Linked DNA regions of Homo sapiens. The protein of the gene in region 3 purifies or fractionates together with the protein of the main gene of each other region. This does not show direct contact. Each region holds a gene or a part of one and is shown on either strand. Other genes may lie near its edges. The genes, in order: POTEC, POTEB2 and CEP83.

Evidence for each region.
Region 1: the proteins of CEP83 (region 3) and POTEC purify together in Homo sapiens (affinity purification with mass spectrometry; 2 studies listed by BioGRID and IntAct, with this or other methods). This does not show direct contact.
Region 2: the proteins of CEP83 (region 3) and POTEB2 purify together in Homo sapiens (affinity purification with mass spectrometry, with the first as the bait; 2 studies listed by BioGRID). This does not show direct contact.

The regions. Positions count from the first base shown.
Region 1 is NC_000018.10:14,540,794-14,545,168, forward strand, and holds the start of POTEC (POTE ankyrin domain family member C), read right to left. Parts: upstream 2,808-4,375; 5' UTR 2,354-2,807; coding exon 1,833-2,353; intron 1-1,832.
Region 2 is NC_000015.10:20,863,443-20,867,451, reverse strand, and holds the start of POTEB2 (POTE ankyrin domain family member B2), read left to right. Parts: upstream 1-1,137; 5' UTR 1,138-1,170; coding exon 1,171-1,580; intron 1,581-4,009.
Region 3 is NC_000012.12:94,457,020-94,461,253, forward strand, and holds the start of CEP83 (centrosomal protein of 83 kDa), read right to left. Parts: upstream 2,849-4,234; 5' UTR 2,538-2,848; intron 1-2,537. UniProt on the Homo sapiens protein: Component of the distal appendage region of the centriole involved in the initiation of primary cilium assembly.

The DNA.
Region 1 (4,375 bases), on a different chromosome or scaffold from region 3:
ACTTTCAGCAAGTAATATAAGTACCACTGTTCTTCACCCTCACAAACTTTGTGGACAGAAAACAGTATTTCATTCCTCTATATTTATTTATTTATTTTTATTTATTTATTTTTTTGAGATGGAGTCTCACTCCATCACCCAGGCTGGAGTGTAGTGGTGCAATCTCAGCTCACTGCAACCTCCGTCTCCCTGGTTCAAGCAATTCTCCTGCCTCAGCCTCCTGAGTAGCTAAGATTACAGGTGCATGCCACCATGCCCAGCTAATTCTTTGTATTTTTAGTAGAAACGGGTTTCACCACGCTGGCCAAGCTAGTATCAAACTCCTGACCTCGTGATCCACCTGCCTTGGCCTCCCAAAGTGCTGGGATTACAGGCATGAGCCACCATGGCTGGCCTTTCATTCCTCTTCTAACTTAAACAGAAAATAGTCTTTCATTCCTCTTCTAACTTAAATTCCTTCTCTTAGCAGGAATGCTATGTTTTCCTATGTGCACAGGTCACTGGTAGACATGCAAAAAAGTACCTTGCCCAATTTTAAATTGAGCTTATTTTATTATATCTGCATATATATGCCGGTTTCAGAGGCTCATGACTGTAATCTCAGCACTTTGGGAGGCTGAGGTGGGTGGATCACAAGGACAGGAGTTCAAGACCAGCCTGGCAAAGATGGTGAAATCCCGTCTTAAGAACACAAAAAAGTAGCCAGGCATGGTGGTGGGTGCCTGTAATCCCAGCTACTTGGTAGGCTGAGGCAGAGAATTACTTGAACCAGGAACCAGAGGTTGTAGTGAGCTGATATTGCACCACTGCACTCCAGCCTGGGCCATGGAGTGAGAGTCTGTCTCAGAAAAATAAATAAATATTTGCACATATAAATAGGCATTTGTGTTTTCTTCTGGTACTTTTCTCCTTTTGTATCTTTAAAATTTTTAATCTATACTCCAGGAACTTATTTTTGTGACATAAAAATCTAGGTAGTTTTCTCCAAACAGCATGCATTTAATTTATGAATAATTCACCTTGTTTTACCAATATGAAACATCACCATTATCAAGTGCTAAATTCTTACATATATTTGGGTATTTCTGGATTTCCTATTCTGTTCTGTTCATTTATGTCTTTTCAGCTGTTAGTAAACAATTTGTGGAAATAACACATGCACATTTTGATATCTGGAAAAGCAAGTCTTTTTCCATTCTGTTACAAAAAATCAATTTATCACAATGATAAAATACATCATGTGCAATTTAAAGACACTAAGACTTTGCTATTTTTATTTGGCTTATGTAAAAGTGATAAACACAGAAAAAGCTCACATCTTAAGAAAAACGAACCTTCCTATTCAAAGATATGAACCATACTTCCCATTTCAGTTTCCTTTTAAGGTTACTCAGTAAAGAACGTATTTACATAGGGCACATCGATATAAAATCCATATTGGATTTTATTTGAAAAATATTTAGCCCAGAAGTTGATATATTATGGGGCTTAGTTCTCAATATACACCTTTCTATAGTGTATAGAACATTGTTTTAAAATGTGTACATTAAAAATAATCTGCTGCATTGACTTAATTTTGCGAGTTAAATCACTTTAAAACCGTCTATTAGTGTTCTATAAGGGAAATTATAATTGGATTGAAAATCAGCTAACATTTTTTGTGTTGCTGTTTATAAAGGGACCTGGGCCCTGACCTCTCTGAGGTTTCCACACCCAGGGTGGTGTGGGGCCTGCGGAGGAAGAGAAAGCCTGGCTCCTCCCTCCCTGCGCCAGGAGGGTATGTCCCCATCATCCCCCCATGTCCCGCCTCCTCCCATCCCAGGCCCAGTTACCTCTTTTGCTTGTCCCTCTTGTTCATGTCCGTGTCCCTGAGCATGACGATGAGATCCTTTCTGGGGACCTTACCCCACCAGGCAGCTCTGTGGAGCTTGTCCAGATCTTCTCGACGGACGTGGTACCTCGGCTCCATGAAGGCGCTGTCGTCGTAGTCTCCCCAAGCGCCCACGTTGCTCTTGCCGCTCCCCCTGCAGCAGGGGAAGCAGTGACAGCACCACTTGCCCATCTTGCTCCTGAGCGTCTTCATAAAGGAGTTGTCATGGTCTCCAGAAGTGCCCACGTTGCTCGTGCCGCTCCCCCTGCAGCAGGGGAAGCAGTGGTGGCAACACTTGCCCATCTTGCTCCTGAGCATCTTCATAAAGGAGTCGTCGTGGTCTCCAGAAGTGCCCATGTTGCTCTTGCCGCTCCCCTTGCAGCAGGGGAAGCGGTGGTGAAACCACTTGCCCATCTTGCTCCTGAGATCGAATGGCTTCTTCACAGCAGAGGCAGCGGGCATTGAACAAACCTCAGTCACCATCTGCTTTTAACAGCCCGGGGAGGCCGGTAGTAGCGAACAGATCGCGTCTACCAACCAGTTTCACCAACTAGCAGGAAACCCTGGGTTTCCAATCTGTTTGAAGAGAAAGGTCAATCCCAGCCAAAACTTGCCAACCCCAGCAAGGGAGCCCAGTCCACCCCACCCAGGGAAAACCCACACCCACCCGGGGAAAGCCCACGCCCACCAGGGGGACCCAACGCCCACCCCAGGAAAGGCCAAGCCCCCCCTCCCAAGGAAACACCCAGCCCAGTCAAGGGAATGCCAAACCCAGCAGAGAAAAAGTCAAGCCCAGCAAAGGAATGCGAGGGAGGAAACGCCAATCCAAGCAAGAAACACCAGGCAAAGCGACTAACGCCAAGCCAAGCTAGGAACGCAAGGCCAAGCGAGGAACGCAAAGCGAAGCGTACCCGTTACAGGTAAGCCAAGCCGTTATGCGCGTGCGGGGCGCGCGTGCGGGGCGCGCGTGAGGCGTGCGCGCCTCAGACGTTACGCGGCGTGCGCGTGAGGCGTGCGCGCGTCATTGCACGTGGTGCAGGAAGTGGCCGATGTGTGCAATCCGGGTGCGCAAGTCTTGGCGCCACAAATGTCAGTGACAGCCTTGCGTTACTGGCAAAGTTCATGGGAGTTGGCCCAGCTTTCGGGCCACTGAGGAGAAGCCTGTGGTGGGAAAAAGCCTCTTGAAGCAGGACTGGGGCTAGAGCGCCTGGAACTCGAAGATGCTGACAGCCTCCTCTGAAGAAAGCCCCCAAGACACTAGTGGTGGTGCTGTTGCGGGTGGCCGCCGCTGCAGCTTAGAGCTCTGGTTGGCGGAGCTGGATGCAAATGGCCTCAAAATCTCCGAGCACAAGACGCCCACGGAGCCCAGGGCCTGCCTGAGGCGCCTTCCACACCTGCTCCTCCTTGGTCCGCACCCAGAACACAGGGTCATCAGCAACGGGGCACTCGGGGCCACAGAATCGGGGCTGGGCTGCTAGCTCCTGCTGTGGTGCCCCCTGCCTGGTGTCCAAACCAGGGCCAACAGCTGTGGGGCTTCTGGCCCGGGGTGCTTCGCTTCACTGGCATGCAGTAGGGTTGAGGTGCAGGCCGCTGTCTCCAGGCCTGCAAGAGGGAGCTGGGAGGAGCACCTACCACTGATGGGGAGATGCAGGAAGGCACCCCCACGTGCAGATCCTGGGAACAGGACACTGCCAGCACCAGGGAGCCAGATCGGAGCCTCCCTGGCAGCCTGTGAGCTGGACCCAGGCAGTGGCACCTCGACCCTCCTGCTGGGACCCTCCTGCTGTGCAGGCTTATGTAGCCAGGCTCCAGGCTGCTTCACCCATACTGCAGGTGCTTTGGTGTGGGAGGAAAAATGCATTCTGGCCGGGCACTGTGGCTCACGCCTGTAATCCCAGCACTTTGGGAGGCTGAGGCGGGCGGATCATAAGGTCAGGAGATAAAGACCATCCTGGCTAACACGGTGAAACCTCATCTCTACTAAAAATACAAAATACTAGCGGGCATGGTGGTGGGCGCCTGTAGTCCCAGCTACTCGGGAGGCAGGAGAATGGCGTGAACCCGGGAGGCCGAGCTTGCAGTGAGCCGAGATCGCATCACTGCAACCTGGGCGACAAAGCAAGGCTCTGTCAAAAAAAGAGAGAGAGAGAGAGAGACGGAGAGAAAGAGAGAAAAATGGATTCTAAGCCTGGGACACCGACCTGCTCTTGCCAACAAAAGCAGAGGGGAAGCCAATTACAAGTGCAAAAAAAAAGTTTTTATTTCAGTGGGATGAATGTCTAGGTGTGCAGTCACTGGAGTAAACGTCACTGGGACATGATGTGTAATTCTTTGTGTACATCGCTGAGTTCTGCTGCTAATGTTGTTAAGAATTGGTGTATCCATGTTCAAGAGAATTACCGGGCTATAGTTTACTTTTTTGTACTATTTTGATATCAGAGTAATGTTAGCTTCATAAAATGAATTGGGAAAGATTCTCTATTTTCAGAAAAGATTGTGTGTATT
Region 2 (4,009 bases), on a different chromosome or scaffold from region 3:
GGGGGTGCCTTCCTGCATCTCCCCATCAGTGGTAGGTGCTCCTCCCAGCCCCCTCTTGCAGGCCTGGAGACAGCGGCCTGCACCTCAACCCTACTGCATGCCAGTGAAGCGAAGCACCCCGGGCCAGAAGCCCCACAGCTGTTGGCCCTGGTTTGGACACCAGGCAGGGGGCACCACAGCAGGAGCTAGCAGCCCAGCCCCGATTCTGTGGCCCCGAGTGCCCCGTTGCTGATGGCCCTGTGTTCTGGGTGCGGACCAAGGAGGAGCAGGTGTGGAAGGCGCCTCAGGCAGGCCCTGGGCTCCGTGGGCGTCTTGTGCTTGGAGATTTTGAGGCCATTTGCATCCAGCTCCGCCAACCAGAGCTCTAAGCTGCAGCGGCGGCCACCCGCAACAGCGCCACCACTAGTGTCTTGGGGGCTTTCTTCAGAGGAGGCTGTCAGCATCCTCGAGTTCCAGGCGCTCTAGCCCCAGTCCTGCTTCAAGAGGCTTTTTCCCACCACAGGCTTCTCTCCTCAGTGGCCAGAAAGCTGGGCCAACTCCCATGAACTTTGCCAGTAACGCAAGGCTGTCACTGACATTTGTGGCGCCAAGACTTGCGCACGCGGATTGCACACATCGGCCACTTCCTGGACCACGTGCAATGACACGCGCACGCCTCACGCACACGCCGCATAACGTCTGAGGCGCGCGCCCCGCACGCGCGCCCCGCACGCGCATAACGGCTTGGCTTACCTGTAACGGGTACGCTTCGCTTCGCGTTCCTCGCTTGGCCTTGCGTTCCTAGCTTGGCTTGGCTGTTAGTAGCTTTGCCTGGTGTTTCTTGCTTGGATTGGCGTTTCCTCCCTCGCATTCCTTTGCTGGACTTGACCTTTTCTCTGCTGGGTTTGGCATTCCCTTGACTGGGCTGGGTGTTTCCTTGGGAGGGGGGGCTTGGCCTTTCCTGGGGTGGGCGTGGGGTCCCCCTGGTGGGCGTGGGCTTTCCCCGGGTGGGTGTGGGTTTTCCCTGGGTGGGGTGGGCTGGGCTCCCTTGCTGGGGTTGGCAAGTTTTGGCTGGGATTGACCTTTCTCTTCAAACAGATTGGAAACCCAGGGTTTCCTGCTAGTTGGTGAAACTGGTTGGTAGACGCGATCTGTTCGCTACTACCGGCCTCCCCTGGCTGTTAAAAGCAGATGGTGGCTGAGGTTTGTTCAATGCCCGCTGCCTCTGCTGTGAAGAAGCCATTTGATCTCAGGAGCAAGATGGGCAAGTGGTGCCACCACCGCTTCCCCTGCTGCAGGGGGAGCGGCACGAGCAATGTGGGCACTTCTGGAGACCATGACGACTCCTTTATGAAGACACTCAGGAGCAAGATGGGCAAGTGGTGCTGTCACTGCTTCCCCTGCTGCAGGGGGAGCGGCAAGAGCAACGTGGGCACTTGGGGAGACTACGACGACAGCGCCTTCATGGAGCCGAGGTACCACGTCCGTCGAGAAGATCTGGACAAGCTCCACAGAGCTGCCTGGTGGGGTAAAGTCCCCAGAAAGGATCTCATCGTCATGCTCAGGGACACTGACATGAACAAGAGGGACAAGCAAAAGAGGTAACCGGGCCTGGGATGGGAGGAGGCGGGACATGGGGGGATGATGGGGACATACCCTCCTGGCGCAGGGAGGGAGGAGCCAGGCTTTCTCTTCCTCCGCAGGCCCCACACCACCCTGGGTGTGGAAACCTCAGAGATGTCAGGGCCCAGGTCCCTTTATAAACAGCAACACAAAAACAAAACTTTAGCTGATTTCCAATCCAATTATAATTTCCCTTATAGAACACTAATAGACGGTTTTAAAGTGATTTAACTCGCAAAATTAAGTCGATGCAGCAGATTATTTTTAATGTACACATTTTAAAACAATGTTCTATACACTATAGAAAGGTGTATATTGAGAACTAAGTCCCATAATATATCAACTTCTGGGCTAAATATTTTTCAAATAAAATCCAATATGGATTTTATATCGATGTGTACCCTATGTAAACACGTTCTTTACTGAGTAACCTTAAAAGGAAACTGAAATGGGAAGTATGGTTCATATCTTTGAATAGGAAGGTTCGTTTTTCTTAAGATGTGAGCTTTTTCTGTGTTTATCACTTTTACATAAGCCAAATAAAAATAGCAAAGTCTTAGTGTCTTTAAATTGCACATGATGTATTTTATCATTGTGATAAATTGATTTTTTGTAACAGAATGGAAAAAGACTTGCTTTTCCAGATATCAAAATGTGCGTGTGTTATTTCCACAAATTGTTTACTAACAGCTGAAAAGACATAAGTGAACAGAACAGAATAGGAAATCCAGAAATACCCAAATATATGTAAGAATTTAGCACTTGATAATGGTGATGTTTCATATTGGTAAAACAAGGTGAATTATTCATAAATTAAATGCATGCTGTTTGGAGAAAACTACCTAGATTTTTATGTCACAAAAATAAGTTCCTGGAGTATAGATTAAAAATTTTAAAGATACAAAAGGAGAAAAGTACCAGAAGAAAACACAAATGCCTATTTATATGTGCAAATATTTATTTATTTTTCTGAGACAGACTCTCACTCCATAGCCCAGGCTGGAGTGCAGTGGTGCAATATCAGCTCACTACAACCTCTGGTTCCTGGTTCAAGTAATTCTTTGCCTCAGCCTACCAAGTAGCTGGGATTACAGGCACCCACCACCATGCCTGGCTAATTTTTTGTGTTCTTAATCAAGACGGGATTTCACCATCTTTGCCAGGCTGGTCTTGAACTCCTGTCCTTGTGATCCACCCACCTCAGCCTCCCAAAGTGCTGAGATTACAGTCATGAGCCACTGAAACCGGCATATATATGCAGATATAATAAAATAAGCTCAATTTAAAATTGGGCAAGGTACTTTTTTGCATGTCTACCAGTGACCTGTGTACATAGGAAAACATAGCATTCCTGCTAAGAGAAGGAATTTAAGTTAGAAGAGGAATGAAAGACTATTTTCTGTTTAAGTTAGAAGAGGAATGAAAGGCCAGCCATGGTGGCTCATGCCTGTAATCCCAGCACTTTGGGAGGCCAAGGCAGGTGGATCACGAGGTCAGGAGTTTGATACTAGCCTGGCCAGCATGGTGAAACCCGTTTCTACTAAAAATACAAAGAATTAGCTGGGCATGGTGGCATGCACCTGTAATCCTAGCTACTCAGGAGGCTGAGGCAGGAGAATTGCTTGAACCAGGGAGACAGAGGTTGCAGTGAGCTGAGATTGCACCACTACACTCCAGCCTGGGTGATGGAGTGAGACTCCATCTCAAAAAAATAAATAAATAAAAATAAATAAATAAATATAAAGGAATGAAATACTGTTTTGTGTCCACAAAGTTTGTGAGGGTGAAGAACAGTGGTACTTATATACCTGCTGAAAGTTTAAGTTGCTGCGACTTTTCAAATAGACACTTTGATGGTAAGAACCACATTTTTAAAATGTGTATGCCTTTTACCCATCTGTTCCATTATACCGAAATATCTATATGAAACAGACACAGCTGTTTTTCTTAGTATTGCTTAAAATAGCCATGTATTGAGAAGAACTCATATAAAGATTTTATGAACAAATTTCAGTGCATCCATAGGATGGAATAATATGTAACCATTGAGGGTGTCAGTAGATACAGAGATATGTCGGCATGCAGAGATGTACTTTGCTGTATCAAGTGAGAAAAAATCAGTTTGTTATACATATACACAAATAGAATCTGCTCTTGTGTTAGCTGGAAATATGTGGAAAATATAATCAAACTTATTTCTGGGGATTTGTAAGTGAAGTTTTTCCCTTTCTCTTATCTGTGATTTCTGCAATGAACATCTGCAAAGTTTTAGTTAAGTTTCATTAGTAATGAAATAATCCTTGGGAAGAGAAGGAATATGCTACTTGCATAGATACAAATAATTTCTTACATTCTATTATTTATTTTTATACCTGTGGATGGCTATCTTCTGTGAACTTTTACCCTC
Region 3 (4,234 bases):
TGGAGTTGAACCTTATAGAAAAGGTACAATTTAGATTTTAAGAAAGAAGGGAATAAGATCAGGTCACGGGGGATAGAAAGATATGCAGACTAATATGGAAAGGATAAAGTACAGAGCAGGTTTAGGGGATAGTGAAGAAACCAATCTGGGCAGAGACACCTTTTCCATAAAGAACATACACTTGAAAAGGCAAGGTGAGAGGATTTCAAATAATTCACCTTAAGTCAAGAAACATGAACTTGGGTTAAAAGGAAGTTTTTTACACAGATTTACACACATTCCCTAAAAGCACATAGGTTAAACAATGTGGGCAATTTACTTATGGAACCTAATATGTATGACAAAATTAAAAGCAAGCTCATCTACTTTTAGGCAAAGAGACAGTACCTGGGGGTGGGGAAATTCTGACAATTCACTAAAATTCACTAATCTTTCTGTTAAGATTTCACTCTAAGCTTCTTGAATTAGAACATCCCATGACATAATGCTGATTTCTGATTACTAAGGATTATACGAGTCATTCTTGATTTGTCTCCTCCATCTTGCCCAACTTTTGAATATTTCATTACTTCAACATCAGCATATAGAAAAAAGGAGGAGAGAACTAAAATTAAGTCCATGGATTTTAGCAATACATAAGGGTATCTGACATAAAGAACATTAAACTTCAAGTTCCAATTCCCATTATTAATAGATTTCAAAGAAGTCATTTAGTCTCATCATGTCTCAAATTTTCTCACATACTTGCTTACTTGAAAGGTTATTGATTGAAAAGATCATTCAAAAAGTGCTCTAAAAACTAACAACTTGCCATAAAAATTTTATCATTAAGGGTTCAATAAGAGGAGACAGTGAGGTGACTGGTAAACCAAGGATTAAAAACTACCTGTGAATAGGCCAGGCACGCTGGCTCACACCTGTAATCCCAGCACTTTGGGAGGTCAAGGTGGGCAGATCGCCTGAAGTCAGGAGTTCGTGACCAGCCTGGGCAATATGGTGAAACCCCATCTCTACTAAAAATACAAAAATTAGCAGGGCATGGTGGCATGCACCTGTAACCCCAGCTACTCGGGAGGCTGAGAGGAGAGAATCACTTGAAACTGGGAGGCGGAAGTTGCAGTGAGCTGAGATCCCACCACTGCACTCCAGCCTGAGCGACAAGAATGAAACTCTGTCTCAAAAAAAGAAAAAAAAAAAAACTACCTGTGAATAATCAGTGTTTCATTCTCCCAGTGCTGCATGGAATTCTAAATTGTATTTCACTATTATTTGAGAATGTTCTAAATACAGTCCGCGCACTTCATCTGATCTGGAAAGAAAACACTCAAAGTAAGGGGAATACCCAGCATACTCTGTCCTAAATAACCAAAGGACAACTCAAAACCATTTGCAACTCTCAGGAGAGTCCTGTGTGACACTTATAATTTAAAGCATTCTGGCCTGGTGCGGTGGCTCACACCTGTAATCCCAGCACTTTGGGAGGCCGAGGTGGGCGGATCACCTGAGGTCGGGAGTTTGAGACCAGCCTGGCCAACATGGTGAAACCCCATCTCTACTAAAATAAAAAAATTAGCCGGGCATGGTGGCACGCACCTGTAATCCCAGCTACTCGGGAGGCTGAGGCAGGAGAATCGCTTGAACCCAGGAGGCGGAGGTTGCAGTGAGCCGAGATCGCGCTACTGCACTCCAGCCTGGGCGACAGAGTGAGACTCAGTCATAAATAAATAAATAAAGCATTCTAACAATTCTGAACAAACTGAGTTTGAAATCAAACCTCAATACAAAAGGTGAGTATTAATTCTAACCACTTACAGGCTAAATTCATAAATATGGAAAATTCTAAATCCAGGTAACTGTAGGATAGATACCTTTAATTGTGTTTTAGTTAAATGTCAGACTTGTTTACAGACATGTTGCTTGGTAACAGAAGCACTGCTTTAACAACCCACTCTGTTTTAGAGCTGCTTAAAGTCTGAACAGATTATGAAGTATATATCATATACACGAAATTCAGACAAGTCTTTCCTTATCCTAGAGATCTGTAAGATTTGAAAGAGCTTCCTCATTTCAGCTAACTAAAGGCTTTACAAATACTTAGCAGTGGATATTCTTAAGAGCAAAATGCCCATTGATTATGGTCAAAAGTTGGACACTGAGGATTAACCAAAGTATTTAAACCCAGCATATGCTAACATATTTTAGGTGTTTATCTCAGTAATGACAGTCGACATCACTGTTCATTCAAATTGTCTTCAAAGCCAAGGAAAATGGTAGCATAGCTTTTTCATCGTAAATTAAGCTGGAGGTACTTAAACGTCTGGCCAATTACCAAACTGGCTACACAACCACCAAGCCAGAGTGCATCCAAAAGCTCCATGAAGAGTTTCACGTGCGTCTCTCTGCCTACTTTTCTAGCACGAGCTTCCACTACTTTAACAGGAAAATAAAAAAAGGATTCAAGGGCAGTTTGTGGAGGGACAAAATGAGTATTCCAAAATACAAACAAGACACCGTCCCCAGAAAGAGAGGTTACATACCAGACGCACGCACGCTCCTTGCAACCCGCACACGGAAAACTTAAGTGACCGCAGTTCTGGCCGCGCTCGCCACCGGGGACACCTCCACAGCTCCAACCACAGGCACCCACTCAACTCCGCTTACGGAGGCATTGGGACTAAGGGTTACGGTCCTACAGCGGGGTGTCGGCCCAGCGAGAGGAAGAGGGCCGAACGGACCCCTCGGGCTCCCGTCCCTAGGGAAATGTGAAGTATCCCGGGAGAGGTCCGAGGGCGGCGGCGGCGGCGGTGAAAAGCCCCACTCCTCCGCGTGGACCGGGATCCTCAGGGGTGCGGCGCCACCCCACGTGCTGACGTATGGCCCAGAAGCCGCCTCATCGCACCGCCCCACCAGCCTGGAGGAGCGGGCTCTGTCCCTTGGCCCAGCGGCACGCGAAGCAGGAAGTCCCACCCCCCACGCCGACGTCACCCACGCCACCGACGCCGGTTGCTGCCGGAGCCGTTAGAGGGAGGAGACAAACGAACCGAGGCGGGAGCGGCCACGGGTGACAGCGGCAGCGGCGGGGCCGGGCTGCGCTCCCGAAGGCGTTCCTGGAGGGCCCTGGGATGGACTCAGAGATCCCCAGAGCCCCAGGGGACGGAAAATCTAGCCCCGGGCACTTGCCTTGGAGTCTGAGTGATGCGCGTCGTTGGAGCGCGAAGCCGGTCTCCCTAGCCTCCGCCCGACACAGCGTCTCCAGGGGTTTTCCTCCTTTTCGCGCCTCTCCTTCCCTCTTCCCCACACCATTTGAGAGCCTCAAATGGTAGTCCTGCCGCCACCTCTCTCCCTTCGCCAGCCTGCCATCGTCCCCATGGGTGCAGATATGCGCTCCCGAAGCCGCCTGCCTGCCGCGTCTGCCTCGGGCATCAGCCCACGAGTGGGGAGTCGGCTCAGCTTGCCACGAGGGAACCTCGGGTTAGGACCAATCGCCCGGGAGAGAGCCCTCCTCGCCCCCGCACCTCCTGCTCCAAGTCTCCTGTCCTGGTTATCCCAAGTTCAGGGCCCACCTGGGGTCACATGGGGAACTACTTGTCTTAAGGCTGTAAACAATAGTTGGAAGAGGAGTTGCTAGCTTTTGAGAACTTCCATGATCATCCAAAGTCTGAAACAAAGTAGGCGGTCAGCCTTTCAAAATACGTGTTGGAAGAAACAGACACCTTCCCATCCCCAGCGTTTGTTCAGTGCCTTGGTTGGGCTTTGATTCTCACTGCTTTGTGAAGTACAGCTTATTTTTACCCCCAAGATTATGATTTTCAGGCTGTAGTTATTATTGGACAACTGAGAGGTGATTTTGTTGTTGTTGAAATGAGGGAAAACGGGCCATTAGAAAGGACCGTGTCTCTTAAGAGGAGGGAAAAAAAGGACAGCGAGTTGGTAATGGAATGTTGCTGGATGGATTACATAGATGAGACATGGGAGATAGAATAGAGAATCCAGAAATTCTCATGTATGTGTGCGTGTTTAGTATAATAACAGTAGCTCACATTTGCTGAGCATTTGTGTGGCAAGTACTGGAGTACTTTTTCAGGTTATCTTATTTAACTCTAACATTTCTGTAAGGTAGGTGCAATTGTTATCTCCATTTCACAGAGTTGCCCAAAACCATTACTTTTAAACGCTGGAGCCAGACAACTCCAGAAATCTCTGTGGTAGCCAGTAAACTATACATGACAAATTA